Linked DNA regions of Homo sapiens: all the other regions are linked to region 2. Evidence: fine-mapped expression QTL. A gene starts in region 2. Each other region holds a variant in brackets. All regions are shown on one strand. Distances are between the middles of the regions.

Region 1 (2,760 bases), 180 kb before region 2:
CCACAGCAGGAGACCTACTTTATGTCTTTGAACATATTAAGACACACCTAATGTGTGGGCATTGTGGGGAGCTAATTTCTTCCCTGAATGTGACAATGAAGTTCTTTTAAGAGAAAAGAACCTTGTAGATTCAACAATTGTCAAACAATTGTGATGGAATTTTTAAAGCCAAAAAAACAAAAAAAAAATGGCAAGGCCTGATTCTTGGTTATTGTTATTGCTGTATTGGTTATTCATGGAGGAGATGAATATGAAACAATATTCTTTTTTCTTTTTCTTTTTTGCGGAGACCAGCTCAGTAGGGGAGACCCTAACCCAGCAGCGCTAGAGGAATTAAAGACACACACAGAAATATAGAGGTGTGAAGTGGGAAATCAGGGGTCTCACAACCTTCAGAGCTGAGAGCCCCAAACACAGATTTACCCACGTATTTATTAACAGCAAGCCAGTCATTAGCATTGTTTCTATAGATATTAAATTAACTAAAAGTATCCCTTATGGGAAACGAAGGGATGGGCCAAATTAAAGGAATAGGTTGGGCTTGTTAACTGCAGCAGGAGCATGTCCCTAAGGCACAGATCGCTCATGCTGTTGTTTGTGGCTTAAGAATGCCTTTCAGCGGTTTTCCGCCCTGGGCAGGCCAGGTGTTCCTTGCCTTCATTCCCGTAAACCCACAACCTTCCAGCGTGGGCGTTATGGCCATCATGAACATGTCACAGTGCTGCAGAGATTTTGTTTATGGCTAGTTTTGGGGCCAGTTTATGGCCAGATTTTAGGGGGGCCTGCTCCCAACAATTTTGAGACAGGGTCTCTGTCTGTCACCCAGGCTGGAGTGCAGTGGAGTGATCATGGCTCACTGCAGCCTCAACCTCTCAGGCTCAAGTGATCCTCCCATCTCAGCCTCCCTAGTAGCTGAGACTATAGGCATGCACCACCATGCCTGGCTAATTTTTGTATTTTTTGCAGAGTTGAGGTCTCACCATGTTGCCCAGGCTGGGCTTGAACTCCTGGCCTCAAGCACTCCTCCCACCTCAGCCACCCAAAGTGCTGGGATCACAGGCATGAGCCACCACGCCAGGCCTGAAACAATTTTCAAGGAAGAATGAGAAGTGGTCTTTGGGATACCTTGGGTTAATATTTCTGACAAATAAGTTGGAATCTAGAAAGATATACTCTCACTTGTAAGTTACAGCGAAATCTGGTTTGTTGTTCCAAGATTATTGATATTCTGTGGAGTGATCCCAGAGGCAAAAATGGCTGTTTTCCAAATACGTGCCGAGGAGGGGGCTGCTATTTTGGACCAGATGTTACTTCCAAGATTCTTAATAAATACCAGTTGAAGATGCTCATCAGGTCTCATGAATGTAAGCCCGAAGGGTATGAAATCTGTCATGATGGGAAGGTAAGCTAAAATTGTTGGTGACATTCCCATAAACATCCTTCCCCTAAGCACAGTCTTTTCTTCACAGAGCATGTCTGGCCTAGAAGCCCATGAGAAGATGTCTTCTCTAGTACCAAACAGAAACCAGAGAAGGCGAGCTTCATCTAGGTTGTTTGAAGGGGCCTCACTGTCCCTTATCCTAAAAGATATTTGGTTTATTTCCCTGATCTTCCCTAATCCCAGAAACAGAAATTCTTTTTTTTTTTTTGAGATGGAGTCTCACTCTGCCACCCAGGTTGGAGTGCAGTGGTGTGATCTCAGCTCACTGCAACCTC[C/T]GCCTCCCGGGTTCAAGTGATTCTCGTGCCTCAGCCACCCAAGTAGCTGGGATTACAGGTGTGCGCCACCACACCCAGCTAATTTTTGTATTTTTAGTAGAGACAGGGTTTCACCATGTTAGCCAGACTGGTCTCAAACTCCTGACCTCAGGTGATCCGCCTGCCTCGGCTTCCCAAAGTGCTGGGATTACAGTCGTGAGCCACCGCGCCTGGCCCCAGAAACAGAAATTCTGATACATGGCACTAAGTAGACACACAGAAAGGCTTGGTTCTTATAAGGCAACTGTCCCATACAGTGGGGTTGAGAATGTCCTTTTCCTCACAGAGCGCATAAAAGGCAGCAGTGAATCCAGTTTGCTCTTGCACTTTTTACATGTTCCCTGTGCAGGGCCCAAAACACAAAACACACTTCCCTTCAGCTCCCTGAGTAGGTGACCTCCAGCAAGTTGCTCACTGTAGTCAGTTTAGCTGCAGCCACTAAAACGGAGTGTGTTGTGTTCCTTCAGTGGTGTCTGATCAAAGGCTAAAAGAGGTGAGGACCGAGGAGCTGGTTTCTTGTCCCAAGTTGTTCTGGGATGCACCGTTTCTTTTTTTTTTCTTTTTTCTTTTTTTTGAGACAGAGTCTCGCTGTGTTGTCCAGGCTGGAGTGCAGTGGTGCAATCTCGGCTTACTGCAACCTCCGCCTCCCGAGTTCAAGTGATTCTCTTGCCTCATGCTCCCGAGAAGCTGGGATTACAGGCGCCCGCCACTACGTCCAGCTAATTTTTGAACTTTTAGTAGAGACAAGGTTTCATGATGGCCAGGCTGGTCTCAAACTCCTGACCTCAGGTGATCCACCTGCCTCAGCCTCCCAAAGTGCTGGGATTATAGGCATTAGCCACCGCGCCTGGCCTGGAATGCACCTTTTTCTATAGTGAACAGCAATAAATAAAAATGGACACCAAGTTGTGTGGCATTTCCCTCTGTGTCAGCACTTTGTTTTTCTGACCTTTATTAATTCATTTTCAGCTCATACTAACATTCCAAGATGAGTAAGGCAAGTAT
Region 2 (2,738 bases):
TCTTCACTAGGAATAAAAATAGTTCAGTGGTCTTACACTGATGGACCCACACATAATTTTAGCCCAGGAATACAAAGCATAGCAGGCAAATTCATACCTCGGACCACATGGGCAGTGTCATAGGACCCTGTGAGCTTGGGAGCCTTTGGGTCTGACCTGCTACATGCAGTGACCTTTCTAGCCTCACAATTTTCTTATCTGTAAAATAGCAACCAAAGTAGCCCCTAAGGGCTTCCCAGGTGGGTCTCTACCAAGACAGCTCATGGGAGGGACGGTAGCTGTCGCCCCACACTGCAGAGTCCTGCGTAAACTTCAGGAGCTTCTTCACTCCTGTCTACTGTTCTCATTCAGTGTAGTCTGTCCAAACCCCCCACACCTCTTCTCGTCCAAAAAAAGCAGAGTCAATGCAAAAAGAGGCAGTTTGGACCCGGGCACGGAGGCGGCTCATTCTCATCCTGAACAATGGCCAAAGAATTCTGTGAAAAGTAGCCGTAGCAACAGTTAGGTCCCCTGAATCTTAAGGAGCACGGGGTGGCAATGGGGTGGTAATCACTGGCTAGCAAGGACTAGATTCAAATAGCAAACTCTTAATTGCAAGGTCTCAGGTCACAAGAGGGCCAGACCTGGGAAGGAGAATGAGTTACATGAGAGGGTAGTTCCACGCGTTCCCTGGGGGCGGTCCCTCCTTACCTGGTAACACAGGATGGTTTGCTGCACCAGCCGCGCGTACCCGTCCAAGCGGACCCCGGAATTGCTCCTGCTCCGCATCTCCCCGAGGCTCCCAGGCCGCAGCGCCCGATCTGCCGCGTGGGCGCGGGACGTCGGGGCTGTGGCCTCCAAGCGGGTCTGGTTCCCGGACACTCACAGCCTTAGTCGGTTCTTGGGATGGGACCGGGCCGGAGGAGGTCGAGACTTTTCTAAACGCTAGCCCCAAAGTCCGGTTGGAAAGCAAGCCAACCAGAGCTCCGCGCGGCGGGGAGGCGCGGGGGCGGGGACGGGGGCTGGAGCGACGAAGGTCCCGCCTCGGCCAGGCCTGCTGGGCTCCCGACGCTCGCGGGAGCAGCGGGAAACCAGGTTCCGGGAGTGGGGCGAGGACGCCCCTGCCAAGCCCCTTTTACGTCCCGGCGGTCGCGAGGAGGTCCCCCGGGCGCGAAGAAGACGCCAGCCCACCCCAGCCGCCGGGGAGATCGCCCAGGCCGCGCTCAGCCCCGCCCCTGGCTCTGCCCCCGCCGCGGAGCGGAACCCTCCAAGTCGCGGCCTGAGGAGGAAGGAAAAGGGGGCGGCCCGGGAGAGCCGCTGCGAAATCAGCAACGGGCGGGAACCAGGTTGCCTCCCTGAGTCCCTTCTCTCCCCGGCCGGCTGCCAACCACAGCCAAGGCCAGAGAAACAGGCCCTTCTGCCGCGGCCACCTGGGCGCCTTGGACCCGCCCTCCGGACTCGCCCCCGCCCCTGCCGCGGAGTGGAACGTTTGGAACCCTGAGGGGCACAGGTAAGGGGGCGGCCCCGCCCCGCGCCCTGGAACGACCTCACGGCCCCGCCCACATCCCCGCCCCTGGCCCCACCTCCGCCGCAGAGCGGAACCCTCAGAGTCGCGGCCTCGGGGGGGACGAAAAAGGAGGCGGCCCGTGGGAGTCTAGGGGAACCCGGCTTCGGGCGGCGGACGAGTTGGCTTTCCTGCGTGGTAGTGTGGAGCCCCCCGAGACGGGTGCCAGTCCCACTCGAGGCCGGAGAAAGAGGGCCGCCTACCGCGGCCGCCTGGGCACCCCTCTGAGGGCCAAGATTGTAGTCCCACCTCTGGCCCCGTCTCCGCCGCCTAGCGGAACTGGAGTAGCGGGACCCAGCCCGGAAGAAAAAGGGGGAAGGCCCGGAGAGGTGCCCCAGCGACACCTCTGGCGCCTGTGACCCCGCCCCTAGCCACTTGGGCGCCGCTTCCTCGGGCAGGTTCGCAGTTCATCTCCCACGGGTCTACAGCTTGAAACTTGGCATTCATTATAATGTTTCGTGGCTGCTGATAACCTACAGTTCACAATCTTCGGCCTGGTATTCATTGTCCACCAAAATCTGGCCCACATAGGAATTTACTGGACAGCTAGACTAATGCAATCAATTTCCGCAAGCTCTTTTCCAGTCTCCATGCATTTACTCTATGCTTGACCCCTTCGGCCCTTCTTCCTCCTCCTTGACTAACTGAAGCCTATCTTTCCCTTAACGGCCAGCTCAGCTCCTCTATTAGCCTTCCCCATTTTCTGAATTTCTGTAGCCATTGGTTTAGTAAGAGCTTAGGACTTAGAGTCAGTTCATTTTGAGTTCAAATGTCAGTTCTGTCATTTACAAGTCGTATGACCTTTGGCATCCCGTTTTACATGTTTGAACTTAAGTGTTCTCATCTGTAAAATGGAGATAATCATAGCACCTACCTCACAGGATGACTTAAGATCAAGAGGATGAATATAAAGCATTTAGCACAAGCCTGGCTAGTAGAAAAATACTTAATAAATCATAGCTAATTTCGTTGTCACTTGGCCACAATGTATTGCCTCCTGTTGTTATTTATGTTTTCATGTGTGGATGAGGCATATTTTCCTAATTGGAATGTACGTTATTCATTGAAACAGTCTTTTGGTATCTCCTACTATGCCTGGTACAGTGTTGAGCATATAGTTGGAGCTCAATTAATGTTGCTCGCATGAGTAAATGAAATCAGTCCTGCTTAGCTGCGTTCCCTTATGTTTGGTCCT
Region 3 (2,760 bases), 37 kb after region 2:
CAGCACTAATCACTCTTCAGCAACTCCTAAGAGGAATTCACAAGGAAACACATCTTGGAGGACATGATGTTAAGTGAAATAAGCCAGGCACAGAAAGACAAATACCGCATGATCTCACTCAGATGTGGAATCTAAAAAGTCAAACTCATAGAAACAGAGAGTGAAATGCTGTTTACTGGGGGTCAGAGGCAGAGGGATTGGGGAGATGTTGGACAAAGGACACAAAATTTCAGTTACGCAGGAGGAATAAAAGAGATCTATTGTACAACATGATGACTACAATTAATTAGAATGTATTGTATGCTTGAAAAGTGCTTAGAGAGTAGACCTTAAATGTTCTTACCACAAAAAATGATAGGTATGTGAGGTAATGCAAATGTTAAATAGTTGATATAGCCATTCTGTGATGTATATCAAAACATCACATTGTACACCACAAATATGCACACTTTTTGCTTGTCAATTTAAAAAGTGGACATATCCCAGTAGCAATCCATTGAACATTCCAAAAAGAATTCTCCTTCTCAACAGGGTTTATCATATTATCAAATAAGACATATTAAAACTTTATTAGCGGGGAGGGAGAGCATTAGGACAAACACCTAATGCATGTAGGGCTTAAAACCTAGATGATGGGTTGATAGGTGCAGCAAACCACCACGGCACATGTATACCTATGTAACAAACCTGCACGTTCTGCACATGTATCTCAGAACTTAAAGTAAAATAAAATAAAAAACTTTATTAGCAAGCAGGAAAAATAACCTTCTAGGGCTCTTTAAAAATTGCCCAATGGACAGGTGTGGTGGCTCATGATCCCCAGCACTTTGGGAGGCCGAGGCAGGAGGATCACTTGAGCCGAGGAGTTCAAGAACAACCTGGGAAACATAAGGAGACTTCATCTCTATTAAAAATGTTAAAATTAGCTGGGTGTGGTGGTGCATGCCTGTAGTCCCAGCTACTCGGGAGGCTAAGGTGGGAGAATCACCTGAATCCGGGAAGTGGAGGCTGCAGTGAGCCATGATTGTGTCACTGAACCTGGTGACAGACTGAGACTCTGCCTCAAAAAAAAAAGAGAGAGAAATTGCCCAAGGACAAAGGAGTCAAAACAGAAAGCTGTAACATATGTAAATTTATTAATTACATTTTCAATTAGAAAAATAACACATTAAAATCCACATGAAGATTAATGCAGCAATAATAGACAACTTACCCATTGGTCGAATCTTTACTCTTTCCAAAGCAGCTATTACAGCACATGCATTCATTGTATTATTCAGTTTTATTGTGAATGTACAATTTAATGTGCTGTAAGGAGAAATATACATAACCAGAATGTTACTAAATGGGAAACCTACTTACATATTTGTAATTGCTTTTGCAAACTTAGAGTGAGGAAAGGGGACA[C/G]TGATACTGTTAACTTGTGATGTCACCCCAATAAGCTTGTAAATACCCATTTACCACGGTCTGAATTTTACCCAAAAAGACTTTATATTAAGAGACATTTATGGAGGTTCACATTCACAGAGGTTGCAAACCAGAGACTCTCTGACCACACATAGGTGCTGGCTCATTTTGCCTGTCTACACGATGAACAGGCAGGGGTGAAACTTGGTTGCAGAGACAAGCAAGCACCTTGACACCTTTAATCTCACCCCCAAAACACTAGCTGGCCACTTGCCTGGTGTCCATAAACATTTGAGTTTCCATCATGGGTGCCCTTTCACATACCAGTCTAGATGAACATCAAGATCTTTTTTTCTTTTTTTGTTTTAGATGGAGTCTCGCTCTCTTGCCCAGGTTGGAGTGCAGTGGCATGATCTCAGCTCACTGCAACCTCCCCGCCTCCCAGGTTCAAGCGATTCTCCTCCCTCAGCCTCCTGAGTAGCTGGGATTACAGCCGTGTATCACCACACCCCACTAATTTTTGTATTTTCATTAGAGATGGGGTTTTGCCATGTTGGCCAGTCTAGTCTCAAACACCTGACCTCAGGTGATCTGCCCACCTCGGCCTCCCAAAGTGCTGGGATTACAAGTGTGAGCCACTGCACCCAGCCACATCAAGACCTTTCAAATCCAAAATCTTTCTGGGGCCGGGTGCGGTGGCTCACACCTGTAATCCCAGCACTTTGGAAGGCCGAGGCAGGTGGATCACTTGAGTCCAGGATTTTGAGACCAGCCTGGCCAACATGCTGAAAACCTGTCTCTACTAAAAATACAAAAAGTAGCTGGGTGTGGTGGTGGGTGCCTGTAATCCCAGCTACTCAGGAGGCTGGGGCAGGGAGAATCACTTGAACCTGGGAGGTGGAAGTTGCAGTGAGCCGAGATCGTGCCATTGCACTCCAGCCAGGGCAACAGAGTGAGACTCCATCTCAAAAAAAAAAAAAAATCTTTCTGGGAATTCTATCTAGATTATTAGATAGCTAAGAATTGAAGACATTCTCTCTGTCCTTTCTACTTTAGCCTTGGTTTAGGTGAAAGAAAATTAGTGTTGCAATAACGAAAAGAGGTCAGTGAAATGAACTAAATACGTACAGTGGACAGGGAATACAATTTCATTGCCCTTATTTGTACCAATGAATAGTTTAATGAGTAGAAACTCTCATTTTCTAGGACTTTGACTGTCACAGAAGGCTCGGGGTTCAGATACTGAGTGTATTGCCCTGTAAGCCATCGGTTTACACAGCCAGGATAGCCAATGGACACAATTCAAAATGATAATCTGTGCAACCCCAAATAATTGTTGGACAAGCTGTGATT

The links.
Region 1: its variant is fine-mapped to the expression of PHKA2 in whole blood (TOPMed, PIP above 0.99).
Region 3: its variant is fine-mapped to the expression of PHKA2 in whole blood (TOPMed, PIP above 0.99).

What each region holds. Positions count from the first base shown.
Region 1 is chrX:18,802,676-18,805,435 of GRCh38, forward strand. It overlaps PPEF1 (protein phosphatase with EF-hand domain 1), which reads left to right. Exons shown (of 16, transcript NM_001377996.1): 11 at 1,217-1,402. Among named protein-coding and RNA genes, the nearest start is that of PHKA2-AS1, 86 kb to the right of the region's middle. The variant C/T (reference allele first, on the strand shown) is at 1,717.
Region 2 is chrX:18,983,165-18,985,902 of GRCh38, forward strand. PHKA2 (phosphorylase kinase regulatory subunit alpha 2) reads right to left here and starts at 950. Exons shown (of 33, transcript NM_000292.3): 1 at 691-950. The coding sequence starts at 768. RefSeq lists enhancers at 752-1,252, 1,253-1,753, 1,735-1,784 and a silencer at 945-1,634.
Region 3 is chrX:19,019,891-19,022,650 of GRCh38, forward strand. It overlaps ADGRG2 (adhesion G protein-coupled receptor G2), which reads right to left. Exons shown (of 29, transcript NM_001079858.3): 14 at 1,214-1,308. All of the region lies in intron 2 of LOC101928415 (a long non-coding RNA gene), which reads left to right. Among named protein-coding and RNA genes, the nearest start is that of PHKA2, 37 kb to the left of the region's middle. The variant C/G (reference allele first, on the strand shown) is at 1,408.